2 linked regions of the Homo sapiens genome follow. Changing the gene in region 1 together with any one later gene gives a genetic interaction. Each region holds a gene or a part of one and is shown on either strand. Other genes may lie near its edges.

The links. A genetic interaction does not mean that the proteins touch.
Region 2: changes in TRAPPC13 (region 1) and SEC24C together harm fitness less than expected from each alone (positive genetic interaction), as found in Homo sapiens cells (one large-scale study listed by BioGRID).

What each region holds. Positions count from the first base shown.
Region 1 is NC_000005.10:65,659,527-65,663,026, reverse strand, and holds part of TRAPPC13 (trafficking protein particle complex subunit 13), read right to left. Parts: intron 2,329-3,500; coding exon 2,130-2,328; intron 978-2,129; coding exon 877-977; intron 1-876.
Region 2 is NC_000010.11:73,754,372-73,757,871, forward strand, and holds part of SEC24C (protein transport protein Sec24C), read left to right. Parts: intron 1-3,500. UniProt on the Homo sapiens protein: Component of the coat protein complex II (COPII) which promotes the formation of transport vesicles from the endoplasmic reticulum (ER).

The sequences.
Region 1 (3,500 bases):
AATAATTCCAGTCCAGTGAGAAAGAGACTAATACTTACAGTAATATATGAGTGTCACTAAATACACAATATATGAGTGTCACTAAAAAACTAAGTTAAAATTTTCTATGATGGAGAAGGCATGAATACCTGTGCTTTGGAAAGTCTAGGTAGCTTCATAGAGGAAGTGGGTATTTCTGTAATTTTGAAGGATAAATATTTCCTATCTTTCTAATACCAAAAAGAATAAATATGGAATTAAAAGGATTATACATTCACACTAAGAGGACTAGGATTCATCACTGCAATATTATAAAAATACCCCAAATAATAATACAAACCAAGTGGTAATACAAGTAGGAGCAGAGGGCATAGGACTGGAACTTAATTCTATTTTTTTCTGGTTTCAAAGCCCTGTGCTCTTTGCTTCCTGACAGTTCAGATTATGCTCTCTCTTTACTGTCAAAACCCAGTTTTCGAATCAATGATCTCCCCTTACATTAAATCCATAAGCAATGTTTGGTTTCTTAATACTCAAGATACAGCTCAAGTACAAGCATGCCTCAAAAAATCTTGCTACTTCAATTCATAATATATTAATACATAAGAACCTATTAGTTCATGTTTTGGTGAAGGAAGTATAAACAATGAATACCTACCTCATAGGGTGTGACAAATGAATGAAATAAAATACAGAAGATGCATAATACAATAGGCCCTTAAAAATATGTAATTATACTGCTACCAGATGAAGAATTTTACAGTACTCAATATCAACATCAGAGAAGGCTGTATGTCAAGAGGAAAACTTAAAAGGAGATAGTAACAAAAAGATTTTAAAATTATCTTCTAGGCAGGTGAGGTAGAAAGGACATCCATCTACAAACAGTGGCATTACCTGCAGTTTGTTATTTTACAGGTAATATGAAAAGGTTCTTCAAGGTTTACGGTATCTGGTATTGCCTCCAAAGACAACCTAACATCTCCATAACCTGGAGCCTAAGAAAACAAGCAACACAGTTAATGTATATCTATCACAAAACCTTTCCATTTTAATGAAGGCACCACAGCAGCACATTTACTCAACAGCTGTTGGGTTTCCAAGCTGATGTTCTAAGAAAATACTTCTGATTCACTTTACTTGTCTCTCATTTTAAATTCTTTTGCAGCTACTGCCTGTGGAATAGCCTGGCAGACCTGGACTGTTTTTGTTATATAATTATTCCATGTTCAGTAGAGTTAAGATGAATCTCACAGGTAAGTAGTCAGTAAAGAAATTTCAGGGAGTTGAAGGGACACTTTCCAGATGCTGTAGCTTCTATGTGTGTAACTCTAAATAGGTAAAGTTATTTTCTAAAGAAAGAGGGGGATGATGTTGAAAGGAGCCAGGAAGAAAATCATGACTTTTTACAAGACGCACAGATGAGGATGGATTATAACAACACGAAGGCTTGGAACAGGCCATGGCAGAAAAATAACTAACGGCTATATTTAAGTGGGCCCAGGAATCATCATCATCATTTTTTAAAAATTATTGCCTCAAACAGTGGAAAGAAAAGTAAAATTTGGAATATGTCAAAACAGGTAATATTCAGCATAAAGGGAGGAGAATCCTGTCGTATATTCTTACAAGCATAAGAAAAAGAAGCCTGGTAGCTATCCCTACTCTCAGAGAAGAAATTAGGTAAAATATGCAACCAATGCTTATAAGATAACTTTAGTAGAACTCACCTTCTGAGGAGATGCCTCAGATTTTTAACATCTTAAAAATGGTAGGAACTGAGTAGGTGAATGAAGTAAGTCCAAGAGTTTCAGGACATTGCAAAATAGAAAACCTTAATGTGTTTGGAAATCAGAAGAAGAGTGAGCATGTGTTACCAAAGGAGAGACACTTAATAACAGTTATTTTAATTTCTGTGTGATAAAGAACACGTGTATTAAGGATAAATTAACATTTGACCATTTTTCATTCATGGCAACACCAGTCTTCGACCTACCTATCAGTGACACTATTAATCTTTTCTGCTCCAGTAGTAGTAATGCCTTTTATAGTGCTCCAATTTTTTACTGCTGGATGTAGAAAAAATTAAGTTGTTCTAACTACCTGTCTTTCACACACCAAAACCCCAGCGAAGTTTTTTCCAGACTCACCATTCTTTGAAGTTGGCTGGTCTGTAACCTTCCCCTTTCACCTAGATTTGTTTTCCATACTATATCCAATTTTCCAATTACTGTTACTCCCTTAATGATGCCTGCTTTTTCTGCAAATTCATTCTTTGGCTTTAGGCAGTATAAGTACTGGCGTGTATCCATTGGTTGCAAATATGCTCTTGACCCAAACGTAGACACACTGAGAGGGGTGGAGACAGAGACGGAGAAAATTCTCTAGCATCTTTTAAAAGAAAAACCATGGCTGTGATTGTTCCTTTGGATAGGAACTGGATGATGTACCCTCCAAAGATCAACAACAGAACATGTTAACGATTTCAATACAAATAAAAAGAACGTATACTGCAATGATTTATTTTTCCTTCATTTTTTTCAGTTGATATCGAAAATCTTGAGGTTCTTTATAGTAATTGGACCCCGAAAGGCAGGGGTCCCTTTTTTTTTTTTTAAATAATTTTAAGAGACAGGGTCTTGCTCTGTCACCCAGGCTGGAGTACAGTGGTATGATCATAGCTCACTGTAACTTCTAACTTCTGGGTTCAAGGAGGTTCTTTATAATAGAATGTAATATATTACTTATAAAATTGAACATGTATCAATTAACTGAAAAGTGCAACAGAAACCAGAACCTTAAGTATCCTGTCTCTTTTCTCTAAAATTATCAAAGATAAGAGTTTAGAATAATAAGAGACATACCATTCTAAACTAATTTTCAAAATGAACTAAAACATCTAGAAAAGAATGGAAAATTGTTTTCCTCAGTGAGGATGAAAGAGGCTATGAACTTTTCTGTGTGTAACCAACCTAAGAATATAAAAGCAAACTTTTCATTCCTAATTAAGAAATTCAGATGCTATCCCAAGCTATTACCTTCTTCTTCTTCTTCTTCTTTTTTTTTTTTTTTTTTTTTTTGTTTAAAATACAAGGTCTCTCTCTGTCACCAGGCTGGAGTACAGTGGTGCAATCATGGCTCACTGCAGCCTTGAACTTGTGGACTCAAGCGATTTTCCTGCCTCTCTCCCAAGGAGCTAGGAATGCAGGAGTGTACCACCATGCCCAGCTAAATAAAAAAAATGCCAAGTTGCCCAGGTTGGTCTAGAACTCATAGCTTCAAGCAATCCTCTGGCCTCAGCCTTCCAAAGGGTTAGGATTACAGGCATGAGCCACCACACCCAGCCTATTACTTTCTTATCTGTATTATTGTCAACTTTACATTTATTCTTCCTCTTTTAAATTAGCTGTGGAAAGGTGTATGTATTTCCTTTTCACAAAGTATTAAACCATCTATTCCTATGTCCTTTTCTTTTGATGTTGAGAGAGTATTTCTTTTTTTAAACCCACATTCACCCTTAC
Region 2 (3,500 bases), on another chromosome or scaffold:
GCCACTGCACTCCATCCTGGGCGACAGAGTGAGACTTCGTCTCAGGAAAAAAAAAGTATATGGGAGGTTATATGCAAATATGATGCCGTATAACCCACATCCAATTCTATTGATTCCACCTTCAAGATGTATCCCAAATCTCACTACAGTCATTCCTCAGTATCCATGGGGGAATGGTTCCAGGACCTCCCCTGACCAACAGATACCAAAATCCACAAAGGCTCAAGTCCCTCATATAAACTCTATTCAAGTAGAGATGTTAGGTAGGCAGGTGCATATACAAATCTGCAGCTCAAGACTGATGCTAGGACTGGAGATAAAAATTTGGGAGTCCTCAGTCTATAGATATTTAAAGCCGTGGGACTAGATGAAATCATTTAAAAAGTGAGTATTGAGATTAAAGAATGGAATTGAGGACTGAGACTTGGAGCTTAGCAACATTTAAAAGTAAAGAGGAGCCGCCATTAAAAGACAATGAGGGGCCAGGTGCAGTGCCTCACTCCTGTAATCCCAGCACTTTGGGAGGCTGAGGCAGGCAGATTGCTTGAGCTCAGGAGTTCGAGACAAGCCTGGGCAACATGGTGAAACCCTGTCTCTACCAAAATACTAAAATTAGCCGGGTGTGGTGGCACATGCCTGTGGTCCCAGCTTCTTGGGAGGCTGAGGTGGGAGGATGGCTTGAAACCAAGAGGCGGAGGTTGCAGTGAGCCGAAATCGCACCGCTGCACTCCAACCTGAATGACAGAGTAAGACCCCATCTCAAACAAACAAAAAAAAAACAAAAGACAATGAGAAAGAGCAGTAGTGAGGTGGGAGATAAGCCGGGAGAGTGTGGTGTCCTGAAGTCAGGTGAAGAGAGTATTTCAAGAAGGTGAGAGAGTAATCAGTTGTGTCAGATGCTGCCAAATTGTAAGATGAAGATGGAGAATTGACCATTGAATTTGGCAAGGTTGGCGTCATTGGTAAAGGCAGTTTCAGTGTAGAGATAAAGAAAACTACCCAGTTGGAGTGAGTCAGAGTTTCAGGCCAGGCGCGGTGGCTCATGCCTGTAATTCCAGCACTTTGGGAGGCCGAGGCGGGTGGATTACAAGGTCAGGAGATCGAGACCATCCTGGCTAACACGGTGAAACCCCGTCTCTACTAAAAATACAAAAAATTAGCTGGGCGCGGTGGCAGGCTCCTATAGTCACAGCTACTTGGGGGGCTGAGGCAGGAGAATGGCGTGAACCCAGGAGGCAGAGCTTGCAGTGAGCCGAGATCTTGCCACTGCACTCCAGCCTGGGCGACAGACAGCGAGACTCCGTCTCAGGAAAAAAAAAAAGTTTCAACCGGGTGGTAGATTGACATAATCTGAAAACCCTCTGCTACCAAAGTCTAGAAAGGAGAGAGAAAATAGAAACAAAAAAAATTTTTAAGTGCAAAGTTAAGCTTGAAAGAAAATGTGAAATTCTTAAGTTTTAGAGACCAAGTGAGGACTGAAAATCTTTTTTTTTTTTTAAATACAGAGTCTTGCTCTGTCGCCCAGGCTGGAGTGCAGTGGCACGATCTCTGCTCACTGCAACCTCTACCTCCCAGGTTCAAGCGATTCCCCTGCCTCAGCCTCCCAAGTAGCTGGGACTACAGATGTGGGCCACCATGCCCGGCTAATTTTTGTATTTTTAGTAGAGATGAGGTTTCACCGTGTTGGCCAGGCTGGTCTCAAACTCCTCGCCTCAGGTGAACCGCCCACCTTGGCCTCCCAAAGTGGTGGGATTACAGGCATGGGCCACTGTGCCTGGCCATCAAGTGAGGACTGAAAATCAGAGTGGTAAATTGACTCTGGAGCTGCCTGTAGATTGGGTGGATTCATCATCTTGAGAAGCCAGGGCCTTAAATTTAAGCAGGTACTGGGGAAGGCAGATGAGTCCTTGGGCTTTCCTGAGAGTAGTTTTGGAACTGAGACATTGTTTATAAAGTCTGGACCTGGGCTGCACCTTCATTGAACAAGCTGACTAGGGGAAAAAAGTCTGCACGCTGGAAAGGGGAGATAAGGAGTGCTGTTTCTCTCAGGCTGGCTGTGGATGGGTGAAAAAAAAAGTTCTTGGGACTGCAAATGGACATGACATCTTTTTGGAATGATGAAAATGTTTTAAAATTTGATTCTGGTGATGGTTGCATAACTAAATTTACTAAAAATCATTGAATTGTTCACTTGAAGTGAATTTAATGGTATGGAAATTACATCTCAGTAATATTTTTTTTTTTTTGAGACAGAGTTTTGGTCTTATTGCCCAGGTTGGAGTGCAATAGCACGATCTCAGCTCACTGCAGCCTCTGCCTCCTGGGTTCAAGTGATTCTCCTGCCTCAGCCTCCCAAGTAGCTGGGATTCCAGGCATGACCACCATGCCAGGCTAATTTTTTGTATTTTTAGTAGAGACAGGGTTTCACCATGTTGGCCAGGCTGGTCTTGAACTGACCTCAAGTGATTCACCTGTGTTGGCCTCCCAAAGTTCTGGGATTACAGGTGTGAGTCACTGTTCCTGGCCAATTTTTTTTTTTTTTTTTTTTTTTTTTTTTGAGATGAAGTCTCGCTCTGTCACCCAGGCTGGAGTGAAGTGGTGTGACCTTGGCTCACTGCAACCTCCACCTCCCAGGTTCAAGTGAATCTCCTGTCTGAACCTCTTGAGTAGCTGGGATTACAGGTGTGCACTACCACGCCTGGGCTAATTTTTGTATTTTTTTAGTAGAGATGGAGTTTCACCATGTTGGTCAGGCTGGTCTTGAACTCCTGACCTCAAATGATCCATCTGTCTCGGCCTCCCAAAGTACTGGGATTACAGGCATGAGCCACTGCACCTGGCCTAATTTTTTTTTTTTTTAAATTAGAGGCCAGGTGCAGTGGCTCATGCCTGTAGTAATCTCAACACCTTGGGAGGCTGAGACAGGAGGATCACTTGAGGCCAGAAGTTTTAGACCAGCCTGGGCAACATAGGGAGATCCTGTCGCTATAAAAAAAAAAAAATAGCTGAGCATTGTTGGTGTGCCTGGGAAGCAGAGGTGGAGGCAGGAGGATTGCTAGAGCCCTGGAGGTTGAGGCTACAGTGAGCCATGATGGCTTCGCTGCACTGTGGCCTGGGTGCCAGAGTGAGACCCTGTCTCAAAAACTAAAAAAAAAAAAAAATCAATCTAGGGTGACACTGTCATTATTGGAGTACCTTCTGGAAACAAATGTAGAACAACCACACCTCAGTCCGGGCTGGAAGGGATTATCGGAGAAAGGCACTTTGATTAGAGTTGGGCCAGGCACAGTGCTCATGTTTGTAATCCCAGCACTTTGTGAAGCCGGGGTAGGAGTTCAAGACTATCCTGGGCAGCATAGCAAGACCCTGTCTCTACAAAAAATAAAAAAAATTAGCTAGGTGTGGTGGTGTGTGCCTGTGGTCTCAGATACTTGGGAGGGGAGGCTTAGGGGGAGGATTGCTTGAGCCCAGGAGGTCAAGGCTGCAGTGAGCCACAGATA